Homo sapiens: one gene and its partner. The protein of the gene in region 2 purifies or fractionates together with the protein of the main gene of each other region. This does not show direct contact. Each region holds a gene or a part of one and is shown on either strand. Other genes may lie near its edges.

What was found. Proteins that work in one complex are often made in the same cells at the same time.
Region 1: the proteins of RTN4 (region 2) and CYB5R3 purify together in Homo sapiens (affinity purification with mass spectrometry; 5 studies listed by BioGRID and IntAct, with this or other methods). This does not show direct contact.

Annotation. Positions count from the first base shown.
Region 1 is NC_000022.11:42,647,944-42,651,686, reverse strand, and holds the start of CYB5R3 (NADH-cytochrome b5 reductase 3), read left to right. Parts: upstream 1-2,294; 5' UTR 2,295-2,371; coding exon 2,372-2,392; intron 2,393-3,743. UniProt on the Homo sapiens protein: Catalyzes the reduction of two molecules of cytochrome b5 using NADH as the electron donor.
Region 2 is NC_000002.12:55,048,238-55,051,980, forward strand, and holds the start of RTN4 (reticulon-4), read right to left. Parts: upstream 2,215-3,743; 5' UTR 2,064-2,214; coding exon 1,508-2,063; intron 1,455-1,507; exon of another isoform or gene 1,321-1,454; intron 920-1,320; exon of another isoform or gene 842-919; intron 430-841; exon of another isoform or gene 309-429; intron 1-308. UniProt on the Homo sapiens protein: Required to induce the formation and stabilization of endoplasmic reticulum (ER) tubules. They regulate membrane morphogenesis in the ER by promoting tubular ER production.

The DNA of each region.
Region 1 (3,743 bases), on a different chromosome or scaffold from region 2:
TAGCTGGGCATGGTGGCACGCACCTGTAGTCCCAGCCACTAGGGAAGCTGAGGCAGGAGAATCGCTTGAACCCCGGAGGTTGCAGTGAGCCGCGATTGCAGTGAGCCTGGCAACAGAGCAAGACTCCGTCTCAAAAAAGAAAAACCAACCAACCAACCAAACAAACAAAAAAAACAGTAGGTCAGGTGGGTGGGTAGGCAGACGGGCATGGTGGCTCATGCCTGTAATCCCAGTGCTCCGGGAGGCTGTGGTGGGAGGATGGCTTGAGCTGCAGTGAGCTGTGACTGCATCACTACACTCCAGCCTGGGCATCAGAGCGAGATCTCTTCTCTGGGTAAATAAACCCAGTGAGTCACTCCCTCAGCTACCTAGATCCTGCAGGGCTCCCCATTCTCCTTGACATTCCAGTTCTTTCCACCCGGGGCTCCACATTGCCTCCCCAACGTCACATCACACCCCAGCTCGGCTGTATCAGCCCCTCTAACCTTGCCCATCAGGCCTCTGTTCACCTGTCTCCACCTCCAGGCCCTGCCAGCAAGGCGCTTCTCCCTTTCTCTGCCTGGTCTGTGCCACGTTGCCTGAACACACAGCCCACCCCATCCCCTCAGAGCACCAGGAGCTCACATCTGGGTCCAAGACCCTACCAGGAGAGCAAGGCAAGAGAATGACGCTAAGGCCCAGCATGAGCCTACACAGAGAAGGTGCCCACTGTCTGTCAAATTCATCCATTCAACAAGTATTTAGGCTGCTCATCGTGGCTCACGCTTATAATCCCAGCACTTTGGGAGGCCAAGGTGGGAGGATGGCTTGAACCCAGGAGTTCCGGACCAGCCTGGGCAACATAGTGAAACCCGTCTCTACAAAAAAATGCAAAAATGGCCGGGCGCGGTAGTTCCCACCTGTAATCCCGGCACTTTGGGAAGCCGAGGCAGGTGGATCACCTGAGGTCGGAAGTTCGAGACCAGCCTCACCAACATGTTGAAACACCGTCTCTACTAAAAATACAAAATTAGGCCGGGCGCGGTGGCTCACGCCTGTAATCCCAGCACTTTGGGAGGCCGAGGCGGGCGGATCACGAGGTCAGGAGATCGAGACCATCCTCGCTAACACGGTGAAACCCCGTCCCTACTGAAAATACAAAAAATTAGCCGGGCGCGGTGGGGTGCCTGTAGTGCCAGCTACTCGGGAGGCTGAGAATGGCGTGAACCCTGGAGGCGGAGCTTGCATTGAGCCGAAATGGCGCCACTGCATTCCAGCCTGGGGGACAGGGCGAGACTCTGTCTCAAAAAAAAAAAAAAAAAAAAAAAAAAAAAGATTAGCTGGTTAGCCAGATGTGGTGGCACATGCCTGTAATTTCGGGAGGCTGAGGCAGGAGGATCTGTTGAACCCTGGAGGCGGAGTTTGCGGTGAGCCGAGATCGCGTCAATGCATACCAGCCTGGGCAACAAGAGCGAAACTGCGTCTCAAAAAAAAAAACAATTAGCCGGACGTGGTGGCATGTGCCCAGCTACTCAGGAGGTTGAGGCAGGAGGAACACTTGAGCCTGGGAGGTTGAGGCTAAAGTGAGCTGTGATCAGGCTCCTGCATTCCAGTCTGGGCAAGAGTGAGACCCTGCTTTACCAAAAAAAAAAAAAAAAAAAAAGGTATTTATTGAGCACCTACTATATGCTAGGCTCTGTGTGGCTAGGCTCTGGGGATGTACGGGACTTCAAACCAGATAGGGCCTTGCCCTCCGGGAGCGCACAGTCCACTGGGATGGGGTGGGAGTGGGGGAAACACGCAGGAGGCCTTCAGCTAAGTGGGACAAAGATCACTCCACAGTGGGACAATGGCGTGGGGAGCGGAGGCGCCGCCGGCGAGGAGGCTCCGGGCGGGCCGTGCTGAGACCGCAGCATTTAACCCGGCCCGAGGCAGCTGGGAACAGTGCTGCCCAGGGAACTACAAATTCAAAGGCCCGGGGAAGGGCCGCGCTGAGCAGCTGCAGGCACAGGCCCAGGCCAGGCCAGGCAGGACCGGCCCCTGCAGTCTCGGAGGCCGGGGGAAGATTCCGCCTCTTATTCTCGCTCCCATCCGGGGGGCGCCATCTTGCTTCCTTTATGGCGGCGAACGAGGCCCAGAGAGGCCACCGTCCCGCGCGGGGCAGCACAGCGGCGGGAGAGCTCGGAGCGCAGAGGGCCGCATCCCCAGTTCCCAGTCTCCATCCCCGGCAGAAGCAGGCGGAGCGACCCGGTCCCCGCCCCCGCGCCCGCCCCGCCCCGCGCGCCCGCCTGGCCCCTCGGCCCCGCCCCTGCTCCGGAGTGACGCGGGCCCGGGCGCGACGGTCTCGGCGGCGGCGGCGGCGGCGACAGAGCGAGCGCGGCGCGGGGCCACCATGGGGGCCCAGCTCAGCACGGTAGGCGGGGAGGGGGCGCCGGGGCCGCGGGGCGTCGCGAGGGACTGGGACCCGGCGGCGAGGGGGCGGGCTGGCCTGCGGGAGGTGACGCGGGACCCGGGCCGCACCCGGCCGCACCCACTTCGCCCGCCCAGCCCGCCGCGCCCCACCCCACCCCACAAGGGCCTGGGCGAGCTACGTGGTGACCGCTACTTACGCCCTGGCAGTCTGCAGCGGGGACCCAGCCCTCCTGCCCGGGGGGCGCGCCAGAGCCCAGCACCCGGGGGCACCTGGGCCCTGCCCTGGCCGCCGTGGGGCCTTGGCTGCTGGAGGGACCCGTGGTTGTGAGCGTGTGTGCCGCTGAGTGTGAGTGTGTGAGCGAGCGTGTGAATGGCTTGAGAGTGAATGTGTGTGTGAGTGTGACCGTGGGTGTGAAGGGCGGGCATGGAAACGTGTGATGGGGTGTGTGTGTGTGTACGGGAGTATGTGAATGGGCGATGTCACTGACTGCGACTGAACGTGTGTGTGTGTGCGATGTCACTATGTCAGAGGGTTTTGCACGTTTAGCAACAAGGAACAGAACCCGGATGACACGGGGGCATCCTCCCAATGCTCAGTGGGCCAGGCTCCCATCAAGGCCAGGCTCCCACTGACCCTGCAAGCTGTGCTGGGGACCTCACACTTTGCGGTGTCAGTGCTGTTTGCCCCATTTCACAGATGGGGAAATGCAAACTAGTCTTGGCCACCGTCCCACAACGCTGCCGCCGGAAGGAGCCTGCTCCATGGGGTTTCAAAGTCCACTCTGCTGCTGTCACTCCTGGGCTGGCCTAGAGCCACCTTCCCTTCCCCCCAGGCCACCTCCTCTCCCCAGTTTCTCAAAAGTTGACCATGGTGAGGCTGGAGGCTTGAGTCTGTGTGGACATGTGGAGGCTGCGGCTGCAGAGGGCAGCTCTCCTGTCAACTGTGACCCGCTAGGCGTGGGGAGGCTGGCACAGGAGGAATCAGCCCAGTGCTCCTCCACCTCCACCTCTACCTCTATGCCTGGCATCTGCCACTTGGAGGGCACCTGGGTCCTCCCTCCTTGGGGAGGACCTGGAGTCTCCTCCTTGGGGATCCAGGCAAAAGGCCTCTTGGCTTGGGTGGTTGCTAAGGAAAGTGTGGCCCAACCCAGAACTTCGGGATGTTCAGACCCCAGGCAACCTTGGCCAGGGTGAACCTGTGGGCATCACCCCAACCTCCATGCAACACCCGGCCCATTTTTCCCCAGAAAGCATCTGCCTCCTTTATTGTTGAAATGTCCTGCCTGTGTCTCTAAAGCTTCCCCTGGTCTCCACCCAACCCTTCCCTGCTGTTTTTGGTGGTGTTCCATACC
Region 2 (3,743 bases):
TGTGGACGTGAGTAGTGAGTGAATGTGAAGGCCTAGGACATTACCATGTACTACTGTACAACTTACAGACACTCTACGGTTAGGCTACACTAAATTTATCTTTAGATATATTTTTTCAATAATAAATCAACCTTAGCTTACTGTATCTTTTCTATTTTATAAACTTTTTGGCTCTTTTGTAATAACGTTTAACTTAAAACACAAACACATTTTAAAGCTATAGAAAAGAAATTTTATATTCTTATTCTATAAGCTTTTTTCTATTTTTTTTTTAACTTTTGTTAAAAACTAAGATACAAACGCATTACCCTAGGCCTACACAGGGTCAAGATCAAGACGTCGCTAGGCGGCAGGAATTTTTCAGCTCCATTACAACCTTATGGAGCCACCGTTGCAAATGCGGTCTGTCCTTGACCTAAACGTCGTTATGAGGCACGTGACCGTATTTTGATTCTGTAACCTAAAACATATCCTTCTGAAAAACAGTATTTCTAACCAATATATATGAAAATGTCTGTCTCAAAACATTTCTCTGTGTCTCATGGTAAATCTGCCACGAGTTCAATTAGCCAATTCCTGGCAAGGAATCCACAGGTTTTCCCTTCTTTAGGAATGTCAACCATTTTGCCTTTTATTTTTTTCTGTAAGATTCAATTATGATGCACTAAGAGGCTGGGCCAAGTCCACACTAACAGCAATTCCTCCGACCCTGCAGCTGAAACCCCGGCAGAACTACGCCCCCTCGAACACAATGCCTAGATCCCCTTTCCCTGGCTCGGTTTAGCTGGTGGGGAGCAGTCCACATCACACCCCGGGGAGCTGGGCGGTGGCAGGACTTTACCAGAACTCTCTCCTTCCCATTTCTCCACGCACCACACCACTGGAGGCGCTCTCCCTTCACTGCGGTTGGGTCAATGTGGACGTTTTCCACTCGGCCAGCTCCCCACGAGCACAGGAGGAGGGGGAGGGGAAGCGCAAAGGGGCCACCCACGCCAGCCAGGAGGTGAGGAGGGAGCCCGGGGCAGAATGCAGGCCAACAGACCCGCAGCAAAACTGCACCTTTTCCAAAGGAGCAACCCAGACGGGTAGACAAAAGCACCTCCTAAAAATATCTGGGTGCCAAGGCCTTTCCTTCCTCACCTCGAAGCCCAACCAACCCGATAAATCCACAACCCTGGCTCTCGGGTATATACCCGGCTCCTACTACGGGTGGGTGCCTAACTTCCGAGAATCCGTACGCTGGGCATCACACAGGGTGAAAGTGGGAGCCGGGAGCGGTGCACGTGTTCCCCGAAACCAAGACGGACAATAAGAACAAACCCGGGCTCCAAGGGCCGCCCCACCCTTCTCCCCGCGCTTCCAACCAGACGGGGCGCCATCGCCCCGAAGTCCGCAGACAAAGCGCCCTCGGGGCGGAGAGGAGGGACCAGCCCAAAGCATCTGGGGCTGCACACAAAAGAGGGAGGGGCGCGAGGGGCGGCGCGAAGCGAGAGGTCGCGGCACTCACCCACTGAGCCCGAGGAGCCCCTGCGCTTGGGCGCGGCCGGGGTGGAGGGGGGCGCGGCGGGAGCCGGGGCTGGCGGGGTCCACACGGGCTCTGCCTGGGGGCTCACGCTGGCCGGGGGAGGAGGGGGAGGCCGGGCCGGAGGCTCGTCGTCCTCAGGGAGCTTGGAGGGCGAGACTGCGGCAGCAGACAGCGGGGATGGCGCGGGCACGGTCGACGACACCGGGCTCGGGTCCCAAGACGGCTGCCGCTCCGGGGCGACGGGGGGAGCGGCCGGCAGGGGTCCCCGGGGCGCCGGCGGCACGAAGTCATTTCCGAAGTCCATCAGGGGCGCGCCGGCGGCAGGGGCGGTGGGCACTGGGGCCGCGGACAGCCCGGCGGCGGGCTTCCTCTCCAGCACCTCCAGCTCCTCCAGGTCTTCGTCCTCGTCCTCCTCTTCCTCCTCCTCTTCTTCCTCCTCGTCCTCGGGCTCCCTCACGAACTGGTACTTGAACGCGGGCTGCGGCCGGGGTGGGCTGTCCGAGGACGAGACCAGAGGAGACTGGTCCAGGTCTTCCATGGCTGGAGGGTGGAGATGATGCTGCAGCTGCTGCCGCCGCCGCCGGGGCCGCGTCTCAGAGCCGCGGGCGGTTGTGGGGGTTGGGGAGGACTGAGAGGGGCTGGGCCGACTGAGCCGAGGGACCTACTGTGGTGACGGCTCCCGGAACAATGAGACTGCTCCTCCTGCCTCCGCGCCGGTGATGCGCCACCCGCCCTGTCCCCACTTGCCGCCGCCGCCCAGATGAGCTAGGAGTGAGGCCAGCGGACTCTCCGCCCAGTTTGGCGTGACTCACCCTCCCCAGGGGAGGGCAGGGACTGGCGCGGGAGGGAGAGAGCCAATCGGCTACAGGATCGAGAAGATAGGCGACCAGCCGGGCCAACAGAAAGGGAAGGAGATGAAAGTGGGTGGGGACTACGGCACTTCCTCTCTCTTACCGGCTGGGATTGCGTTCAATGGGCGGGGCTGAGAGCTGGGAGCTCCACCCCCACTTTGGGTAACCGTGAGTTGGGGTGGGGTCTTGGCCTTGCCCGCAGCTGGCGTCCGTATGTCGTTAGAGCACTGGGAAAGGGGGCGGGCTGCTGGCTGGGAGGGGTCGGCGCGGTTTCTGGCGCGCCACCGGAAGGGCGTTATCCTGGGGGAACTGAGAGTGGAAACTTTCCTCCCGGGAAAGGAAGAAACCCGACTGGAGAAAGGTATTAGCGGGACTGGGAAGTGGGCCCTAAGGATTTTTAAAGATTTTTGAAATAAAAGATTATTTGTTCACTCAAAGTTCCAAACTACATCACTACTACTACCACCCTAAAATAAGAAAAAAATTGTTTTTTGACAGTTAGGCTCACTCAGTCTAAACCGCAGCCCCCGAAATTGGGAGGAAAACAGCTGTGCTGAATTAACTAGGGATCTGGGGCCGACCATTTGAAAGTCTGCTCTTCTTCCAAAGAGAGTTTGGGGCCTTGCCTGCTGGACTCTTACATGGTAAGAGAGTGAGTCACCCAAAGAGAGAGGCAGCGGGGAGACAGGAAAGTGGAAATACAAAGATGCCTTGGAAAGCTAATTTGGTTCACGTTACATTTCAGTCACCTTAGGTTCATGAGTCAACATTTCGGATGATTCAGGCTTTCTGGGAGTCAGGAAGCCCCATAGTCATTGGTTTGATATGCAGGAATAAGCATGATCCCCATTCCACTTTTTATGAGGCTGGAGAGTTTAAAGAGAGTAGTTGCAGAACATCTTTGTAAGAATCAGGATCCTTTTATCTTTCTGATTTACCTTTCAAAAATATTCACTGCATGCCTACTCTGGAGGCCCTGGAGAGAAGAGGATAACCTGCTTTCAAGTTGCTCAAAGTCTAAATCTGTGCTGTACCTGACAGGTACTGGCTACTTGTGGCTACTGATTGAACACTCGGAATGTATGTAGCTAGGCTGAAATTAGATGTGCTGTAAGTGTAAAATGCGCACTGGATTTCAAGAATTAGTACCTCCGAAATGTAAAATATCTCAGCTTTCCTGTTGACTGAATGTTGAAATTGATATTTTGGATATATTGGGATAAGTATAATATTATTAAATTAATTTTACTTGTTCCTTTTAAAGCAGCTTCTAGAGTTTTTTAAATACATAATGGCTCACATTATATTTCTTTTGGACAGTGCTAGTCTAGATTAATAATTAAGAAAGTTTGATTGCCATGGGGAAT